2 linked regions of the Homo sapiens genome follow. The protein of the gene in region 1 purifies or fractionates together with the protein of each later gene. This does not show direct contact. Each region holds a gene or a part of one and is shown on either strand. Other genes may lie near its edges.

The links. Proteins that work in one complex are often made in the same cells at the same time.
Region 2: the proteins of RRP15 (region 1) and RRP1B purify together in Homo sapiens (co-immunoprecipitation; one large-scale study listed by IntAct). This does not show direct contact.

The regions. Positions count from the first base shown.
Region 1 is NC_000001.11:218,291,624-218,295,474, forward strand, and holds part of RRP15 (RRP15-like protein), read left to right. Parts: intron 1-3,851.
Region 2 is NC_000021.9:43,690,560-43,693,569, reverse strand, and holds part of RRP1B (ribosomal RNA processing protein 1 homolog B), read right to left. Parts: intron 2,132-3,010; coding exon 2,068-2,131; intron 381-2,067; coding exon 187-380; 3' UTR 1-186. UniProt on the Homo sapiens protein: Positively regulates DNA damage-induced apoptosis by acting as a transcriptional coactivator of proapoptotic target genes of the transcriptional activator E2F1.

The sequences.
Region 1 (3,851 bases):
CAGGTTCAAGCAATTCTTCTGCCTCAGCCTTCCGAGTAGCTGGTACTACAGGCACGTGCCACCACGCCCGGCTAATTTTTGTATTTTTAGTAGAGACGGGGTTTCAACATGTTGGCCAGGATAGTCTGGATCTCTTGACCTCATGATACACCCACCTTGGTCTCCCAAAGTGTTGGGATTACAGGCGTGAGCCACCGCGGCTGGCCCCCCACTCCCCACCCCCTTTTTTTTTAAGACAAAGTCTTGGTCTGTTGCCTAGGCTGGAGTGCAGTGGCATAATCAGAGCTCTCTGCAGTCTTAACCTCCCAGGCTCAAGCAGTTCTCCCACTTCAGCCTCCAAAGTAGCTAGGACCACAAGTGCGTGCCATCATGTCCAGCTAATTTTTCATTTTTTGTAAAGATGGGTCTCACTCTGTTGCCCAGGCTGTTCCCAAACTCCTGGGGTCAAGTGATCCTCCTGCCTCGGCCTCCCGAAGTGTTGGGATTACAGGCATGAGCCACTGCACCCAGCCTTCAATTTTTCAAACAACAAACTTTAATGCAAACTCATAGCACCATACATTTTGGGCATACTGTACTGTTAGAGGAAGTGGATAATAATAGTTATATTTAATATACTTTGTTGATTCATTAACATTTGAACTCATGGATGGCCAATAACGTGCCTGAAAAAAGCTTATTCAACACATATTTTCTCTGAGAGGCACATTGCATCCTTGTGCTTAGGGACACTGCACAACCCGTCAGCATTATGCTTGTGGGCCATTTTAAACATTGCTGTAGCCAAGAAAAAGCACAGAAATGGAAAAAATGTGGCACTAAATAGCTGTAGGAAGAACACCAGTTTACAATGAGAAAGTTAAAACAAGGCAGAGTGTCTCCTTCAGCCTCAGCTAGGAGTGTGCATGTAGGGAGACTCCAACCCTTCACTGCTCTAAGCATGTCTGTGAATGACTGCAAAAGTGCCATGAGTATTGATTTGGGGTTACGAATACATTTTACTGAGTTAGTGAATTCTCAAATACAGAATCCACAAATAACAGTGATTGACTGACTGAATCTCCTTGTAAACTGGCAACAGTCTGCATACCCAACCTGTGTGATCTGACCACTGCTTGCCTCTCAGGCTCACATCTTGTCATTCCCTAGACGACTAGGGTCATAGCATTCTGAACTAGTTTCTGGAATACAGTCTGCTCTCTGTCTTTCTAGTCGTGCTTATGGTACTCTATTGGCATACTCTTTTTATTCTTTACTTTCTCTTAACCAGCTTTTCTCTATCCTTTAGGTTTCAACTTAAATGTCTCCTCCACTTTGTCTTTTACAAATTTTCCTATCTCTGCAATATAGATAAATAATAAAGGATCATATATTTTACTTATTATTTTAAAACTTTTTTTTCTTATTTTTTTTTTTTTGAGACAGGGTCTTGGTATGTTGCCCATGCTGGTGTGCAGTGTGGCATGATCATAGCTCACTGTAACCTCCAATTCCCATGCTCAAGCAATCCTCCTGCCTCAGCCTTTTAATAATTGGGACCATAGGTGCACACCACCATGCCTGGTTAAAGAGTCCTTTATTTAATACAGTTAGTAATATAGGTCTGTTGGTTAAAGATGGGACAATTCTTCTTTGGCTTAACTCAGAATTTGCTATTTAATATAAGAAATTGCTGTTTTCCGCTCATGAAATTAAGTATTTCTGTAAAGGTGACCCATGGAGGTGGATTTTCTAGTCAGGTAGTTGTATACATGTGGTCTTGGTTAAACTATTAAGTTATCAAAAACTTTTATATGATAGTACTGAGAAACTATAAAGGCAGAGTCTTCAGACCTATGAGGAATCAGTGTGTAAATTACAGATATATTTAAAGAGTACTGACTTGTTTTATCAGGAAACTGAATCAGGCACTTATCTTTGAATTTTAACTGGATTATAAAAATTGATAGGGATGTGCCCTATATCGACATTTGAAAAACTTCCTTTAGTAAGACGCTACTTGAGTTTCATAGAAAACCCAGATATAACCCATATGTTGTTTGAATTTTATTTTTCTGGCTTTAATTTCTTTTCACATATTGTATAAGAAAAGTAGAAGAGTGTGCTTTCATGAGAACAAAACTCAAAACTCAAGTATTGTTTGTTAGACTGCAGAAGTTTCCTAAGTTCCATGGGGACAGAGACCTTGTTACTGTGAGGACAGCTATATCTCAGTTTGACATAGAGCCTGATTCATGGTGTAGTACTTGATATCCATTTATTCACTGAATAAATTGGAAATTTCTCTTAACATGATTTTTTTAATACTCTTTTCTCATATACTAGATTATCATGGAGGTGAAATTAGCAGTTATATATATCAACTTGAATAATAGCAAAATGACTAAGATTGAATTTTTGGTGAATTGCAGTACTGTCAGTACGATTTGAAATTTGATCATAATAAAATTGAAGGGGATCACGAATTAGAGATATACAGCCGGTGAATGTGGAAAAAACACCACTCAGTGTGCTTTTCTCTATTTTCTCACTCAGCCACTCAACAGCAACAATCATCACAGAAGACTTCTGTGATTAAATGTGTATGGATTCATTCTCACACCCTAAGCAAGTAATCAATTCTGCAGTGGATACCACCTGTTTGCTCTCCAATTCATTTCAACATTATCTACCTGGAGGTAGTGTCAGACCCCACAGACTGAGGGCTCAGCTTCATAAGACTGCCCAAACCCTTCAGATACCAGTCCTAAATCCAGACCTCTGGAACTTCTGACCAACTGACTTAAAATTGGGGTTCCCATAATCTTCCCTTTGGGTTCGATTAATTTTCTAGAGCAACTCACAGAACTCAGGGAGACACTTAAGTTTATGGGTTTATTATAAAGCATATTACAGAGGATACAGATGAACAGATGCATAGGGTGAAGTATAGGGTGAAGGTGTGTGGAGCTTCCATGCCCTCCCTGGGTGTGCCGTCCTGCAGGAACCTCCAGGAGTTCGGCTATCCAGAAGCTCTCTGAACCCTGTTTTTTTTTTAATGTTTTATGGAGACTTCATTACATAAGCATGGTTGATTAAATCATCGAGGTGACTCATTTAACTTTCAGCTTCCCTCCCTTCCCAGAGGTTGGGGAATGGAGCTGAAAGTCCCAAACTTCTATTCCTGTCTTGGTGCATCTGGTGACCAGCCCTGATCCTGAAGCTGCCTTGGGGCTACCAGCCCTCAATCATTAGCATACAAGAAGATACTCCTTTGGAGATTCCAAGGATTTTAGGAGTTGACCAAATAGATATTTCACAGTATCACAGAAGGTAAAGTGCTACAGTCTGCATTTTAAGTAATATATAAATGACAAGTGTTATAGAGGGGAAGGTGATGGCCCTACCTGAGTTATCCCTGAACTACTCAAATTTATTGACTTGATACCTTGTTGGAAGTTTAGATACAATATATACTCGGTTCTTAAGCTTGTAGTCTTAAAACAATAAAAACCCCAAAACAGAAAAACAGTCTTCCTAGTCAGTAAATCACCTCAGGTGAAAAAATAACAGTGGTTGATGATATCAAGTATGATAAAGGGTAAGATGATAGCCCCTACCTCTGAGTTATCCTTGAGCTACTCAGATTTATGGAAGTTAAGATGCAACTCTAACTAGGTTCTTAAGATTGTAGTCTTGGGACAGGGTGCGGGGGAAGCGTCTGTTGTCTGTAAATCAACCCAGGTTAAAAAAAAGAAGCCTTGATTGTTACTCGGGGCTGTGATCTGATTGACTCCTCCCTCATAGAATGTGCCCATATGACTATAAAACAATAAGGAATATCATTTCAGGTTTTCCAGGCAGCTAAAAAG
Region 2 (3,010 bases), on another chromosome or scaffold:
TCAACCAAGACGCCCGCAGCCACTACAGAGGGGCCAGGACGCAGCAGCCTGCGGGCACTCTCAGAACCTCGTGCACACAACTTATGGGAACTTACAAAATCATAAAAAAGGCCCCACATTCTTAAAGGTATAATTTATAGCGCATTCTGTACAAAAGCAGTCTTTTACAAGGGACTCTGCTGCTCCTCAGAAGAAATCCATAGCCCTGGGCCTTCTCCTTGGTGTGGTGGTCAGGGGCTTCTTGGCCACCAGGGGTGAGCTGGCAGGTGAGCTGGTGGGGGTCTTCAGCACCCCGTGGAGGGGCTTCTGTTCAGGGTCGAAGGCCACTCGAGAAGGGCCCGTGGGACTGACCAAGATACTCTTGTCTGTCTTCTTGAATTCTGTCCCAAATGAGAGCAAGGCCCCATATTAAGTGGGTCCGACAGCTGTCCCTTCAACACCTTAGACAGCGTCCTGCCTGGGTGCCGACCCCACCCACTTGCTAGGACGAAGCAGGGCCATCTCAAGGCCCTGCAGAGAGCAGGCCCAAGAGCCTTCTGAGGAAAGGAGGGCAGTGAGGCCACATCCCATGCCTCAACTCACCCTCCCAAGGGAGGGCCCAGGGCTGCCTGCACAGACTAAGGGGAGCTGCTGGTAGGGTGGCTCCTGGAAGGGTGAACATTGGGGGTGGGGGTGTTTTGGACAATGAGTGAACCAGGCATTTGTGTCTGGGACAAATCTGTGCTATGTGGAGCTGCAGGATTCGTACTGTTCATTTTCTCCAGTTGTAAAGGCTGGGTGAGCTCCTCAGTCTCTCAGAGTCTCTTCTCCCTAAACATACACACTCACGCATGTGTGCATGCACACGCACACACACATATATACTGGTGCATGTACACACACTCACACATACACATACTCTCTATTACTTGCAGTTCCCAACAAGAGTCAGGTCCTAAATTCGTTATAATACTTTTTTTTTTTTTTTGAGATGGAGTCTCACCCAGCCTGTCACCCAGGCTGGAGTGCAGTGAAACGATCTTGGCTCACTGCAACCTCCATCTCCTGGGTTCAAGCAATTCTCCTGCCTCAGCCTCTCGAGCAGCTGAGACTACAGGTGCTTGCCACTACGCCCAGGTAATTTTTGTATTTTTAGTAGAGACGGGGTTTTACCATGTTGGCCAGGCTGGTCTCGAACTCCTGACCTCATGATCTGCCCACCTTGGCCTCCCAAAGTGTTGGGATTACAGGCATGAGCCACCGCGCCTGGCCTATACTACTTTTTAAAACTTTGGTTTCCTTTGTAAAAGCAACTCGAATGGATGGCACCAATATGAAAAGTAGGAAGATAGGGGTTACCCTTCTCTGTCGCCCAAGAAGCAAGTGGTTCCGAAGTTTCGCAGAGAGACAGCTACAGCTGATGGAGCACTACGATCTCAAATGGCCTCTCTATGGGACGGCTTTCAGTATTTAGAAAGACACTTGGGAAAACGGCTTTTTGGATCACGTCTCACCAGGTAGCTTCTCTTAACAGGTCCCAGGCAATTGGCTGCCCACTCACCACTGGCACCCCACTCACAGCCCTTTGAGGATGAGGGACAGACACATAGGTGCTTCCTTCTGACTCAGAAATGGGCAGTGAGGGGCCGGGCTCGGTGGCTCACGCTTGTAATCCCAGATCTTTGGGAGGCCGAGGCAGGCAGATCACCTGAGGTCAGGAGTTTGAGACCAGCCTGGCTGACATGGTGAAACTCCATCTTTACTAAAAATACAAAAATTAGCTGGATGTGATGGCGTGCACCTGTGATCCCAGCTACCCGCTACCCGGCAGCCTGAGGCAGGAGAATCGCTTGAACCTGGGGGGGCGGAGGTTGCAGTGAGCCAAGATCTCGCCACTGCACTGCAGCCTGGGTGACAGAGCAGCGAGACTCTGTCTCAAAAAAAAAAAAAAAATAAAAATAAAGAAATGGGCAGTGAGGAGCTAGGACCCCCCTCTTCCCCGACCGCCTTGTGGAACCAGGCTGCGAGCCGCGCCAGGAGCTGCAGCTGTGCTCCAGAGAAGCTTGCCGCTGGCAAAACCCCACTTACCGGCAGTCATGTTTCTGTTCAGCCCAAAGGTGACTTTCTTGGAGCTGGATGGTGTCTTGTTTAGCTGCAGAAGAGAAATAACAGGAACAAAAGGAGTGACGCAAGTGCAGTGGAGGCGCTTAGTCAGATTTTTCTGGAGAACCTGCCCTGGAGGGTATGCCGCCCACACTGCTGCTTACTGAGTGGCACATATAGGGAGAGGCCAAAGGGACTGCGGCCAAGACTGAAACCGACCCTCCTGTCGGGGCTTCACCAGGACCGCCCTTTGTCCTTCCCAGCGTCCCACACACGCAACCCCCCAGCCCAGGGTCAGTGGTGCCCACACTCTTGGCCCATCTGCGGTCACTGCCTCATTACCGCTGCAGGGTTCTACGATCCAGGGAAGAAAGGCAAACAGAGAGGATGCCTGAACTGTCCTAAAAACAGTTCACCACTGAGAACCCGTGAGGAAAAATGCCAAGACTCCCCTGCCTTTTGCTGGAGAGTTCTGAACTTCTAACTTGAAGACTCTATGACATCGATGAGACGATGCCTATGATGGAATCTCACTGCAATGGACAATGGACACACAGTTTCCAGCTTTTTGTGCACAAGGACTCTGAGCTATCTGCATATCCCAACAGTTCACCACAATCAACTATCTTCTTTCCTACTTACATTCCTGGAAGTGGATCCAGCCTGCATCAGGAAGCACTGCCTCAAGTTCCTGCTCTGACCCACATTTCTGTGTGGACCTCCTACTGCTGACTTGCACCACTTGTGTTTAACACTGTGACATTTCACGAGAGAAAACTGGTTTCTGCAAACCCTGAGCCGGAAGCCCTGGGAGGCAGAATGTGTGGATCAACCGCCCCTCAAAGTCCCCTTCCTGACTGTGATCCCTCAGGGTGGGTCCCAGACCACTCAGACCTTATGCTACCCTGGCCGTGGAACCTGTCCACTG